2 linked regions of the Homo sapiens genome follow. The protein of the gene in region 1 interacts with the protein of each later gene in a biochemical or structural test. Each region holds a gene or a part of one and is shown in the gene's direction. Other genes may lie near its edges.

The links. Proteins that work in one complex are often made in the same cells at the same time.
Region 2: the proteins of RFC3 (region 1) and RFC1 form a complex in vitro, tested with the Homo sapiens proteins (one study listed by BioGRID).

The regions. Positions count from the first base shown.
Region 1 is NC_000013.11:33,834,160-33,838,577, forward strand, and holds the end of RFC3 (replication factor C subunit 3), read left to right. Parts: intron 1-988; coding exon 989-1,058; intron 1,059-1,944; coding exon 1,945-2,136; 3' UTR 2,137-3,304; coding exon of another isoform or gene 3,305-3,319; 3' UTR 3,320-3,341; downstream 3,342-4,418. UniProt on the Homo sapiens protein: Subunit of the replication factor C (RFC) complex which acts during elongation of primed DNA templates by DNA polymerases delta and epsilon, and is necessary for ATP-dependent loading of proliferating cell nuclear antigen (PCNA) onto primed DNA.
Region 2 is NC_000004.12:39,306,826-39,315,391, reverse strand, and holds part of RFC1 (replication factor C subunit 1), read left to right. Parts: intron 1-2,460; coding exon 2,461-2,640; intron 2,641-3,842; coding exon 3,843-3,947; intron 3,948-6,359; coding exon 6,360-6,756; intron 6,757-8,566. UniProt on the Homo sapiens protein: Subunit of the replication factor C (RFC) complex which acts during elongation of primed DNA templates by DNA polymerases delta and epsilon, and is necessary for ATP-dependent loading of proliferating cell nuclear antigen (PCNA) onto primed DNA.

The DNA.
Region 1 (4,418 bases):
TTTTTTCCCCCACTTTTTTTAAGATTTAATGTGCCAGGGCTTCATATTCCTGACGTCTTAGGATTGACTTCTGCTTTTTAAGAATTCTTATAAATCACTACCTGGATTTATCTGAAGTATGGAACATCTGTACTGTGTGTATATATATATATATATATATATATATATATATCTGTACTGTAAAAATTCAGAAGTTTTTCCCTTTAAGAATGTGTATTTGGAACTTTCTCTCTTTTTTTTTTTTTTCTGTTTTAAAACGTCATATGTACATTTCCCTCCTCTTCCCCTTTCTCTCCCTAGAATATGAGAAGGGCCTAGAATGAAGGACTCAGAGGTTTGAATGTTCCTATTCGCTTAGCCTGGTTGCGTGCTTACCTGTAAACCTTTGTGCCGCCCCTTTTATGACAGGGACAGCTCTGTATCCCTGCCACATTGCTTTTTTACTGTGCAATCTAGGCAGTGGCATTGTATTATATTTCATGCGTATATTATCTTGTGTCACCTATGTAATTGACTTTTTAATCTTTTCATGACCATTTCCTGGATGTTTCAGGTATCTGTCTGGAGAAAAGAAAAACATATTACTTGACATGTCATTAAAGTTTGTTAAATTCCATGGTGTGAATAAGCTCAACCCGCGCTCTTCATGAAGTCTCAATTTCTATCTGGTATTTTCATGGTGTTTTGATATAATTAGGAACCCTGAATATAGACGTCTCATTTTAAAAGAGTTCTGAAAATGTTCTGTTTCAAAAATGAACTGAAGTTAGGAGAAGCCTCCATATGTTTATCCTAAGTATGGTAAACTATTTAAGAAACAGTTATTATTTCTTACTGGATTGTTTGTTAATTCATAAAGTTAGGTCATAAAGTTGTTAATTCTGTATTGGATTGTTTGTTAATTCATAAAGTAAAACCATACAGTGGGAATTTGGAAAAATTACCTCTTATTTTCTTCACAAAATACCAATTATTTTGTTTTATGTAGGCTCCTTGAAGTTCGTGGAAGGCTGTATGAGCTTCTAACTCATTGTATTCCTCCTGAGATAATAATGAAGGTAACCCAATTTCAGATCTTGAACTTTTTACAGCTATAAAATTTGGACGCTGGGTGTGTGATCATAGGGCTTTTTGCAGTATCAAGATATCACCTCTTTCTCTCCAGCGCATTAATTGCACGTATTTACTGAACCTCTATGGTGTGCCAGGCACTATTAGAGGAATGCTGAAGAAAAGAAGGGAGGGCCTGCCTAAAGTGAAGTTATATTCTAGTGGTGTGAAAAGGAGAACAAATAAAGAAGAGAATTTCAGAGTGTTGTAAGTGCTGTAAAGGAAATACCAAGGTGCAGGGATGATAATGGAGGGTGGGGCTACAAAGAAAAAAGTGAAGTTCCACCCATCCGTTTTCACAAAGGTAACCACTTTTAACAGACCTCTTTTCTATTCACATAGAAACAAGTACGTGTATATATGTGGTTTCACAAAACTTCTCAGTTTTCCACACTTTAGTATGGATGTTGTGTCATGACCATATGTATAGATTTACTTCGTTCTGTTAATGGATGAATGGTTTTCTGTTGTGTGACTGTATCATAGCTTTTCCGAATATGACCTCCATTGGTGGAACTTTAGGTTGTCTACAAATTATTATTGTTATTATAAATAGTGCTGCAGAAAGCATCCTTACACTTATATCCTTGCACTTTGTGCAGTTAAATATTTGGAATTTAGAATGTGGTTGATACCCACCACATTTTTATGTCATGGAAAAAGTACCCAAAGTTTTTGCTTTTGGATGAAGGTCGTTGATTCACATAAAAAATTAAAGATCTCACACATATAAAGAGAGTATGTTTAACTTTAGTCTTTTTGTGAATGGGAGAAATAAGGCATGCTTAGCTGTTTTTATTAATGATTTTTAAATTACTGATTATTTTTGTTTAGGGCCTTCTCTCAGAACTGTTACATAATTGTGATGGACAACTGAAAGGGGAGGTGGCACAAATGGCAGCTTACTATGAGCATCGTCTACAGCTGGGTAGCAAAGCCATTTATCACTTGGAAGCGTTTGTGGCCAAATTCATGGCACTTTATAAGAAGTTCATGGAGGATGGATTGGAAGGCATGATGTTCTGACTTCTGTCAGTTATTCTTGCAAAGATTTCTCAGTATCAGTATTTACATACAGCTTATATTAAAAGAGCTGTGGGTAAATTAACTGAACTTAATCATGTCGTATTTGCGTTTTTTTGGTAATAACTTCTCTGTGAACTATTAATCATCCTCTGAGTTAAATAATTGCTCCTATACTATTGAAGTATGTAGTTTTGTACATAACTTAGAGACTTTAGAGTCTAAGAAAATGATCTTAATTTACTTTAAGCATTGGTTATTCAAGTATTCATTGTTGATCCTCCTATTCTCTTCCGTCTAATCTCTCACCTGCTAAAGGAGATTTACACATTAGAAAGCAAAGATTATTTTCATTTATCCAGATGACCATTTTCTGCCACAGGTAACATGATTGTTTGACACACCATTATATTTAATTCTAGTTTCTCTCAATGAATAATTGTATTTTTGTAGGAAATGTAAGATTTCATTCTGAAACATAATTATTGGTATGGACAAAATTGCAGATACCATTTCTGTTGAGGCTGCAGATTTCCAACTTTTATTTCAGTGGTTCAGATTAGTATTAGGTCGGTACTAAGAAATAAGCATGTTTTCACTAATTTAAGTACTTGAGACTCTTGAAGAAAATTCAGAATGAAGTTCTGGAGAAAGGTATGTTACTGTAGTAATTACTCTTTGAACAGGTTTTGTGTTTTGTCATTAGCTCTGCCCTTTTTAATTAAATATTTTGGTTCATGGACCAAAGGGTTTACTTGACAAATTTGTGTGACAGACTCCGAACAATTCCTTTACTACGAAGTATAATTTATAAAATAAAATATACCCATTTTAAGGGTACAGTTTGATTTTTGACCAGTGAAACTATGATCCCAATCAAGGTATAGATGCCGTCACCCCAAAAAGTTCCCTCCATATCCCTTTGCAGTCAGTTCATCCCTACCCTGGCCCAGATGATCACTGATCTTGTCATTATAGATGAGTTTTGCCAGTTCAAGAATTTAATGGAATCAGATATTGTAAGCATTCTTGTGTAATACTTCATTCTCTCTCATTATTGAGATTCATCCATATTGTTGAATGTTTCACTAGTTAATGTTTATTGTTCAATATTTTTGTATATACTTTTAAAGCCTATTCACTTGCTGATGGATCTTTGGTTTGTTTCCAGGTTTGGTTATTATGAATAAAGTTGCTGTGAATACTTACGTGTAAGTCTTTTTGTGGACAGGTTTTTATTTGTCTTGAGTAACTACGTAAGAGTGCAATGACTGGGCATACAATATTGTAAACATTAACTTTTAAAAAGTTGCTTAACTTTCCTAAAGTTATATTACTTTACACTTCTACCAGCAATATAAGAGAATTCCTGTTGTTCCTATAGTATTGGTTTTATTGACTTTCTATGTTGTTGTCCATTTATATTTTATTACCTTTTTTATCTTCTACTTTTTCCCTCTACTTATTTTTCTAGGTTATGTACTTGGAAATTTAGATAATTAACTTTAGACTATTCTTTTCTAATATAATTTAAAGTTATAAATTTCACTCTGAGTACTGATTAAGCTTTTTAACATTCTCCTACAAATGTTGATATTTTAGGTTTTCATTTCTACTTAGTTCAAACTTTTCTGATTTCACTTGTGATTTTTTTTTTAACCAATGGATTACTTGGAATTGTGTTGTTCAATTTCCAAGTCCTTAGGGATTTTCCAAATATATTTTTACACCTCCTCTGTCTTTCTTAGTTTTTAGTCTTTCACTGAGAGAAATATTGAAATCTCCCTCCATAATTATGCATCTGTCTAATTCAGTTCTTTTGGACTTCAAGCATTTTGAAGATCGTTCTTAGGTACTTGAATAATATCTTGATATATTGACTCCTTTATCATTATGAAGTGCCCAGTTGCTTCTCTGTCTTTTGGCTAAGATCATGTGTATGAAATGCCCTTTTTTATTTCTAATGATATTCCTTACTGTGAAAATCTACTTTTTTTAATATTTATGTAGACACTCCAGCTTTCTTTTGATTAGTGTTTGCATGGTAGGAGTATTTCTTATAGCGTACGTCTGCTAACAATTTTCTCAGTTTTTGTTTCTCTGGAATGTAGTTTACCATTTATAGGATTCTTGGTTGATTTGGGTGTTTTAAACCCCCACCACTTTGAATATGTCATTCTGCTGCCTTCACGTTTCTGTTGTTTCTGATGACAAGTTAGCCAGTAGTCTTGAGGTTGTTTCCTTTTACATAATGAGCCAATTTTCTTTTGCAGTTTTCAGTATTT
Region 2 (8,566 bases), on another chromosome or scaffold:
AGAGGGTGGAAACCAAAAGGAAACTGAGAAGTAGCAGCTACAAATATGGGAGAGAAGTTTGATAAGCGTGGGATCACAGAAGCAAAGGGAAGAGAGAGTATTTCAAAAATGATTGAGTAGTTAAGTCTGTCATGCTGTTAAGATTCCAGGTAAGGGAAGACCGGAAATTGTTCCATTTAGTAACATGAATTAATGATCCTTAGTGGCCTTAGCAAGAGCTAAGGACAGTGGAGGCAGAGCCTGATGGAAGCGGGTGGAAGAGTGAGTGTGAGGAGACAAAATGGAGACAGCAAAAGTAGATATTTTTGATAAGTTTGGCTGTGAAGGAGAAAGAAGTGGGAGGACTTCTAGCTAGAAGGACTAGAAGGGGAAGTGACTTCTAGCTAGAATGGAAAGTGGAATTTAGGGGGAGATTTAAGTATTTTTATGGTAGGAGATATTTAAAGCATGCGTTTTGCTAATGGGATAGATCCTACCAGAAAGGGAGAGATGGAAGTTATACCAGCAGGAGAAGGAGAATCAATTGTAGCATGAGATTTCTAAGAAGGCAGGAGGGGAGGGGATAAGTATACAATATATGTATAAATTTAATTTTCAGTTTGCTTGGTATATATAAGTACATATAGAGATTAATAGCTCCCCTAATAAAGAGAGGGAGAGATGGTGTAGCTGGGACCGGAGTGGGGAGCGAGAAGGTCGGCCTTAAGGGGCTTATGGGTTTTATGGGAGCCTGCAGGAAGATGCCAGTCTTGCCTCCTGTACATGGGTATGAGAGACCAAACAAGTTCTGCTTGAGAGGACTTCAGTCAAAGTGGTGCCCTGAGGGGACAGACAGGTTTCAGTGAAGGCAAGGCTATGGAGGGAATGTTGGAGAAGAGGTTGAGGATACTAGGGGTGGCTGGCTGCTCCTGGAGTAAGAGCTTAGCCAAATTCTAGAATAGAAGAGTTTGATAGGGAGGCTAGAAGTGCTAAGATTGGATAAGTAAAAAGATAATCAGAGCCATAGTGGGTGATAATTTGGGAGATAATAGATGTTTGGGATATGGGATATAGGGGCTTGCATGTGCAATTTTTCCAGGGTTGTTTTGAGTTTGTTCAGAAGTAGTTAAGTTCCTGTAGTGTTACAGTAGATCATTTCAATCCAAGAACCCATAAAGGCTTCAAGGGACCCTGAGATATTGTTAGTCAAACCTTTTCTTTCCAAGCACCTTCATAGCTGTTTCTTTTTGTCTTCCGAGAAAGATTCTTCATCTGAATGGTGAAGGATTGAACTTACATGGAGGCAGTCTTTGAATTTTGGTTGGCTGCTGCTTTTCAAGCCCATTTTAAGTTTATTAATCTCAATTCTCTATTAAAAGAGTAATAAGTAACTTGGAATGTCATGTATAATTTTCATTTTGTTTGGTTGTATAATTTTATTGAACCATTGCAAAAATATATAACTCAACATAGTTCCAATTAAGATTTAATGTCTTTTCCATCCAGCTCTCTTTGGCAAGTATCTCTTATATTATACATTATGAGAGTTATCTTTCCAATCCAGAGATAATACGATCTTGCCTTTAAGTTACTAGAAGATTGCTAGATTTACTATCCTAGAGTAATGAGCAGAGAGGAAGGCACGAGCTCACACTTGCTTAGCTTTTTAGAATCAAAACTTTCCCTTTTTAACAATAGCAAGAGTTGCCTTTTTTCCCTTTTTTCCCATAAAACAGTAAAAATTTTTTATTAAGCATTATAAGTTGCATTCAGTAGCCTTCAGATATGCCACACCACAATCCATTGGCAGACCATCCAACCCAGCAGCAGTTTGTTCTTGTACAATCCATGAGTTCGGGCAAAACTCCCTTCAACTTACAGTTAAGATCCTACTTAGCTCTTGCGGGCAGGGATTGGGGAATTAGACCTCATTTCTGATCACTAATGTGGTGAAAAGCATCAGAAGTATTTGAAAATGATAAGAAGTGATTCTGATTTTAAAGTACATTGTTTCGAAACATTAACAGAAACATCAAAATGATAGGAGTATACCTGCTTCTATTAAATTCTTGTTGGGAAAGTTCTTAAGAACAAGCAGTTTCCTGAATAGCAAGAGTTTCTACAGATGGATTGCATTTGGTTGTTTATTTATAGTTATGCAAGTTAACTAGTAGTTTAGATATGAAGAGGGCATAATGGAAAATAGTATGAATGGGTAATTTTAATAGCTTTGCTAACAGTGTTGGATGTATGTTTTTCACTGCTTGTTTTGTAAGTTTATTAAACGTTAGCCATATCAAAATTTCTTAGGATCTAATTTCAGGTGGTGCTTATTTGCTGTAAATTTCCAGCAAACTTTCCATGCCAAGGTTATTTATGATGTGAAATGAGAAAAATCAACTTCCTGCAGTTTTGATGCCAAATGTTTCTTTGGAAAGCTACCATGTAATTTCCTCTCTGCTTGAACATTTTGGTTTTTAGGGAGCTGAAAATTGCTTGGAAGGCCTTATATTTGTAATCACAGGCGTGCTGGAGTCTATTGAACGAGATGAGGCCAAGTCTCTAATTGAACGTTATGGGGGAAAAGTAACAGGAAATGTCAGCAAGAAAACAAATTATCTTGTCATGGGTCGTGATAGTGGACAGTCCAAGAGTGATAAGGTGGGTACTGCTTTGTTCTCAACACCATGACACCTCCTGCCTGCCTTGGCACACTCTTGATGTGATTTGCCCTTTACTCAGAGTTAAATGAAGGAAAGAAATAGAAAAGTAATTTCTTGCCTACATTATTTCTTCTCCACAGAAGTGTTATTGGCTCTGACACCAGGATTTTGGTTTTCCAATGGAAGGCATAGTTCCTGTTTACTTGACTTTTTTTTAGTGTATTTAAGTTTAAGTCTTTTTTTATTTTTGAAGATAGAAACAAATGCAGTTTTCTTTTTCTTCCAGTCCGAAGTATTCCTATATATGCCACTGTATACACCATCTTAGGTTTTTTTAAATTGGTGTTTTTAGAAAAAGAATCAGCGGCCTGTTGGGTAGGATTGTGTTTAGCTCCAAACAGCAGAATATCTGATTAACCGTGGATTAAACAGCTGCTAATTTTTCTCACAAGAATTCTGGAGGTATTGCTGGGATAGTTCGGCATCTCAACGATGTGGTTCCTCCATCTGTCCTTATTGTGTTAACTTTTGTCCTCATGCATGTTGCCTTGTGGTTGCAAGGTAGTTGCAGCTCTAGGCATTTAAATTCTTATTCAAGGCAGGAAAAGGGAACAGTGGCAAGTATGTCATAAGAGCTGTGACTGGCCTGACGAGAGTTTTCCCAGAAACATGTCTTATAGAATTTCACATAAGGCTCATTGGCCAGAGCTGTCACCTGGCCACTCAGAGCTGTATGGGAGGTTGGGAAGAACCAAGACGTTTCTGGTTGCCTTGGACCAGTCATCATTCATCACTTGAAGAAGGACACATTGGAGTTCCATCAGCAGGGAAGAAGGTGGGGGAAATGTCTGCCATATGCATTAAATATGGGAGAAGGTATGAAGAGCTGGTCTTAGGCCCTAGTGGCCATTGCCCCTTTCTAGGGGAGGAAAGGTAAAGCAGTCCACAAAAGTAGAAATGGACCACTTCCCATGCCAACCTGCTACTCTTAGGGAATGTATCTGTTATTTTCTTTCTTTTCAATGTTACTTTTTCAATGAATGTGCTATTTTTTGTTTTTCTTTTTTAATTCCAGTGTTATCTTAATTTACGAATGTGGTTTTTCACCTACTAATAGGCCCTAGAATTTTTTTTTTTGTAAGAGAAGGGAATGGTAGGATGCAGGATGCAGTTTTGATGGTTTACATTTTTAATCAACAGGCCGCAGCCTTGGGGACAAAAATTATTGATGAAGATGGCCTGTTGAATCTGATTCGGACTATGCCAGGCAAGAAATCCAAGTATGAAATAGCAGTTGAAACTGAGGTTCGTATAAAATGAATGTGATTTAAGTTGGTGTATATTAACTTTTTAATTTCATAGACATATGTCTTGGGTGGATACAGGCTTGTTGGCTGAAAGATTAACATCCCTGTCTACCACAAATGGACCACCTTAGTTCCTTTTGAGCTGGAAGACTCTGCTTCAAGATGTCTACTTTGTTGTTTTTCCTTATCTTTGTCAGGGAATATGAGTAGAGAAAGGACAGTATATTGCATATAACATATCTACTTATCAAACTTTCCTTATTTTCCATATTACTATTATTACTACTATTTTTTAATTTTTTGAGACAGAGTCTAGCTCTGTCCCTCAGGTCGGAGTGCAGTGGTGTGATCTCGGATCACTGCAACTTCTGCCTCCTGGGTTCAAGCGATTCTCCTGCCTCAGCCTCCTGAGTAGCTGGAACTACAGATACCTGACACCACGCCTGCTAATTTTTATATTTTTAATAGAGACGGAGTTTCACCATGTTGGCCAGGCTGGCCTTGAACTCCTGACCTCAAGTGATTCACCCACTTCAGCGTCCCAAAGTGCTGGGATTATAGGTGTGAGCCACTGTTCCCGGCCATATTCTCACGTTGACTTTATGCAAAGGTTATTGTTTAAGAGTTCCTTAAAGGATATTTTAATAGGTATTAGCATGATAAATTTGTTTTCAATTAGAACTGTATTAGGACTTTTTAAATTGTGCAGACACCTAGCCTGTATTAGCTTTTGCAAAAGGAAAAATGTTGGCTCACATAACTAAACTATGGGCAGGGAGGGTCTGGTCTAGGAACTATTGGATCCACAGACTACAAAGCTGTGAGGACCCCTTCAGTTTCTGTCTCTCTGTTTCTACTAGTTAGCCTCATTCATTCCCACTGTAGACCATCTTTTTTTACACACAGGACACAGGATTGCCAGCATTCCAAGATTTTAATGTCCCCAGCTCTGTCACCCAAATGGCAAGATGGTCCATCCAGGTTATTCCGGTTAGAGAAATCTAGGGAATGATTTCGATTACATAACCATAGCATAGTTATAAAAACCAGGAAATTAACATTGATGCCGTATTGTTAACTAACCTGTACATATTTTTCGAACCTTACATTTTTCCCTGTAGTTCTTCTGTTCCAGGGTCCCACACTGCATTTAGTTGTGTCTTCTTAGTCTTCTCCCGTCGATGACATTTCTTCAGTCTTTCCTTGTCTTCTTACAACCTTGACACTTTTAATGAGTACTGGTCAGTTTTGTGGAATGTCTCTCAGTTTGGATCTGTGATGTTTTCTCATGATTAGGTTGAGGTTATGCCTTTTTTCTAAGAACACCATGGATGTGATCTTGTGTCCTCAGTGCATCCTATCATAGATACAGGATGTCAATAACGTCTTATTATTAGTGAGGATAATCTTGATTATTTGGTTAAGATGATTCAGCATCCCACTGAAACTAGTGCTGGGTTCCTTCACTAGTAAAGTGACTATTTTTTCCTTTGTAATCGATAACTGTCTTGGCAGGAGAAGGAGGTACTTATGCTTATATCCTGTTTGTCCTTAAACATTCATCCACTAATTTTAGCATCCACTGCTAAAGAGGCACTAATTTTTTTAAAAACTGAGATATTACATACTATAAAATCCACCCTTATAAAGTATACAAATCAGTGGTTTTTAGTATATTAACAAGAGTATACAACCATTAGCACTGTGTAATTCCAGAACATTTTCCTCACCCTGAAAAGAAACCCTGTACCTATCAGCAGCCACTCATTCTATCCACCCCGTGGCACTCACTGCTCTGCTCTGTCTCTATGGATTTTCCTATGCTGGACGTTTCACGTGTGTATGGAGACATTAGAATATATGGCCTTTTGTGTCTGGCTTCTTCCACTTAGCATAGTGGTTTCAAGGTTGACCTGGGTTGTAGCATGTATCAGTGCTTCAGTCCTTGTTAGGGGTAAATAATATTTCATTGTGTGGACACATCCTATTTTGTTTCTTTTTCAGTTGATGGACATTTGGATTGTTTCCATCTTTTAGCTATAATGTGGTTATGAACATTTGTGTACAAGTTTTTGTCGAGGCATTAACTTTTAATTAGGAAACTTTGAAACAAAAATCTCAACACTGTACCTTGTTTTTTTCAAACTAAAATTGGAGTACTTATTACTTTTAAAAATCAACGTGTTGTCACTTTTAGAAATTGCATTTGGTGGTTTCTGGTGTGTTTGTTAATTTTTATAGTTTAGAAGGTGGTGATTTCCACAAACAGGAAAGTCTGTTGTGAAAAGACCAGCCCAGGTTGAGTAGCCCACTTGGATATCTCTGATTGCTCTCTGTAGTACGTTTAGCAGGATAGAAATTCTGTATGTTTCATCAGGTTTCTTTTTTCCTCATTTTTCCACTTCTTAAGATGAAGAAAGAGTCCAAACTGGAGAGAACACCCCAAAAAAATGTCCAAGGAAAAAGAAAAATTAGTCCATCTAAAAAGGAATCAGAATCTAAAAAGAGCAGGCCGACTTCCAAAAGGGACAGTTTGGCAAAGACAATAAAAAAGGAAACAGATGTGTTTTGGAAAAGCCTGGATTTCAAGGAGCAGGTGGCTGAGGAGACAAGTGGTGACAGCAAGGCTAGGAATTTGGCTGATGACAGCAGTGAAAACAAAGTGGAAAATTTGCTCTGGGTGGATAAATATAAGCCAACCTCGCTCAAGACCATAATTGGACAGCAAGGTGACCAGAGCTGTGCCAACAAACTCCTACGCTGGCTCCGAAACTGGCAAAAGAGTTCTTCCGAAGATAAAAAACACGGTGATTTTACAACCTCACTCATTTTTGTGTGTGTGTATATCAACATGTGATTGCTCAGTGGCACATATATGAGAAAATCTAACGATTCATTCATCTGTCAGCAAGCATTTATTAAGAGCTTGATCTGAACCCAGGTGCAGTACTAGACCCTGCTGGTGGTGTTGTGAACAAAACAGTCCCTCTCAGGAGCTCACAGGCAGTGGGGGAGGCATATCTGAACCAGCCATTAAAATATATTTGCCAAGTACTGCTAGAGGGGTAAGTCCAGGGTGCTGTGAGGATGAAGATGTGTGGTCAGGGCCAGGGTGTGTGTGCTCCCATCCCAGAGGAAGGGATGGCTAAGCTAAGACTTGGAAACAAAGTAGGAGCTAGCTAGGTGAAGGGAGGGAGAGATGAGTGTTGGGTAGGAAAGAGTATGTGTCCCAAGGTCTGAAGCCATGTGACAGCAAGACCCCTGAGTGGCAAGGGCACTAGGAGGAAAGCTGTGAATAAATAACAGAGGCATGCGTGCAGGGCAGTCAGCCTAAACTCCCAGTAGCAAGCACGATTTGCTGTGGCAGGCCCGATAGGCCTGTGCTTCTGTAGTTTCTGTCCTTGTTTATGATGTATTATTTGTCGTGGAGAGTGAAAAGCTCCAATATGTATTTAATGTCCAAAGTATTTTCTTAACTGAGCTTTGAGATCACAAATGTTTTAGTAGTGTTTTCAACATAGACCAGTGATGACTAGATTGCCAATCATCATTGCCAATGATGCCTGTTTATTTATAAAAATAATATATTGTAATGATACAGGACTAAATTTAAGTTAAATCACTTTTTTCATTCTGAAACTTCATAAAATCTCCCTTAAAAGAGGAGACAGGCATTTCATGTGCCTGGAGAAGACTGTTTTTTTTTTGTTTTGTTTTGTTTTGTTTTGAGACAGAGTCTTGCTCTGTTGCCCAGGCTGGAGTGCAGTGGTGCGATCTTGGCTCACTGCAACCTCTGCTTCCTGGGTTCAGGTGATTCTTCTGTCTCAGCCTCCTGAGCAGCTGAGACTACAGGTGCACACCACCATGCCTGGCTAATTTTTTGTAGTTTTAGTAGAGATGGGATTTCACCATGCTGGCCAGGCTGGTCTTGAACTCCTGACCTTGTGCTCTACCCGCCTTGGCCTCCCCAGGTGCTGAGATTACAGGCGTGAGCCACCGCACCCAGCCAAGAAGACTGTTTTAAAGCTTCGGGTGAACTCTAGTCCCTGTCTTCATGCCCGCTGGCAGTAGGTTGAAAACCATTGTCTCTGTCAGTTATTGAGTATGAGTTGAGCATGATGTATGTGCCAGGTGCTCACGTGGTGAGGGGAGGAAGAGTGCTGTAGTGTTGAGGGGCACAAGGTAGTTGCAGACGCAGCATCTTCAAGTCATTTTTTCTTCTTGTGACCATGTAGCTACTATGCTTGTTAACATTTAGTGAAGCTTGCATGGCTCTGTGCTCAGCCATTCCGTCCTCACAACATCCTTAGCAGCAACTTTACTGTTGTTCTCCTCATCTAACAAAGGAGGAGGCAGGCACAGAGGGGCTAAGTCACTTCTAAAGTACCCACGGCTGGTGAGAGGTGGCATGAGGATGGATGGAGTTGGGATCGAGCCCCGGCAGCGTGCTCCATGGCCTGTGCGTTCACAGGAAAGGAAACTCATACAATTATTATTTCAAATCAAGAGTTTTAAGTGAGTTAGTTTTAGTTTTTTATTTTGGGTGGGGGTGAGGTAGGAAGTAGAATTTCACTGAATGCTCTGGAAACTTGTTTATGCTTTGTAGAAAATAGTCTG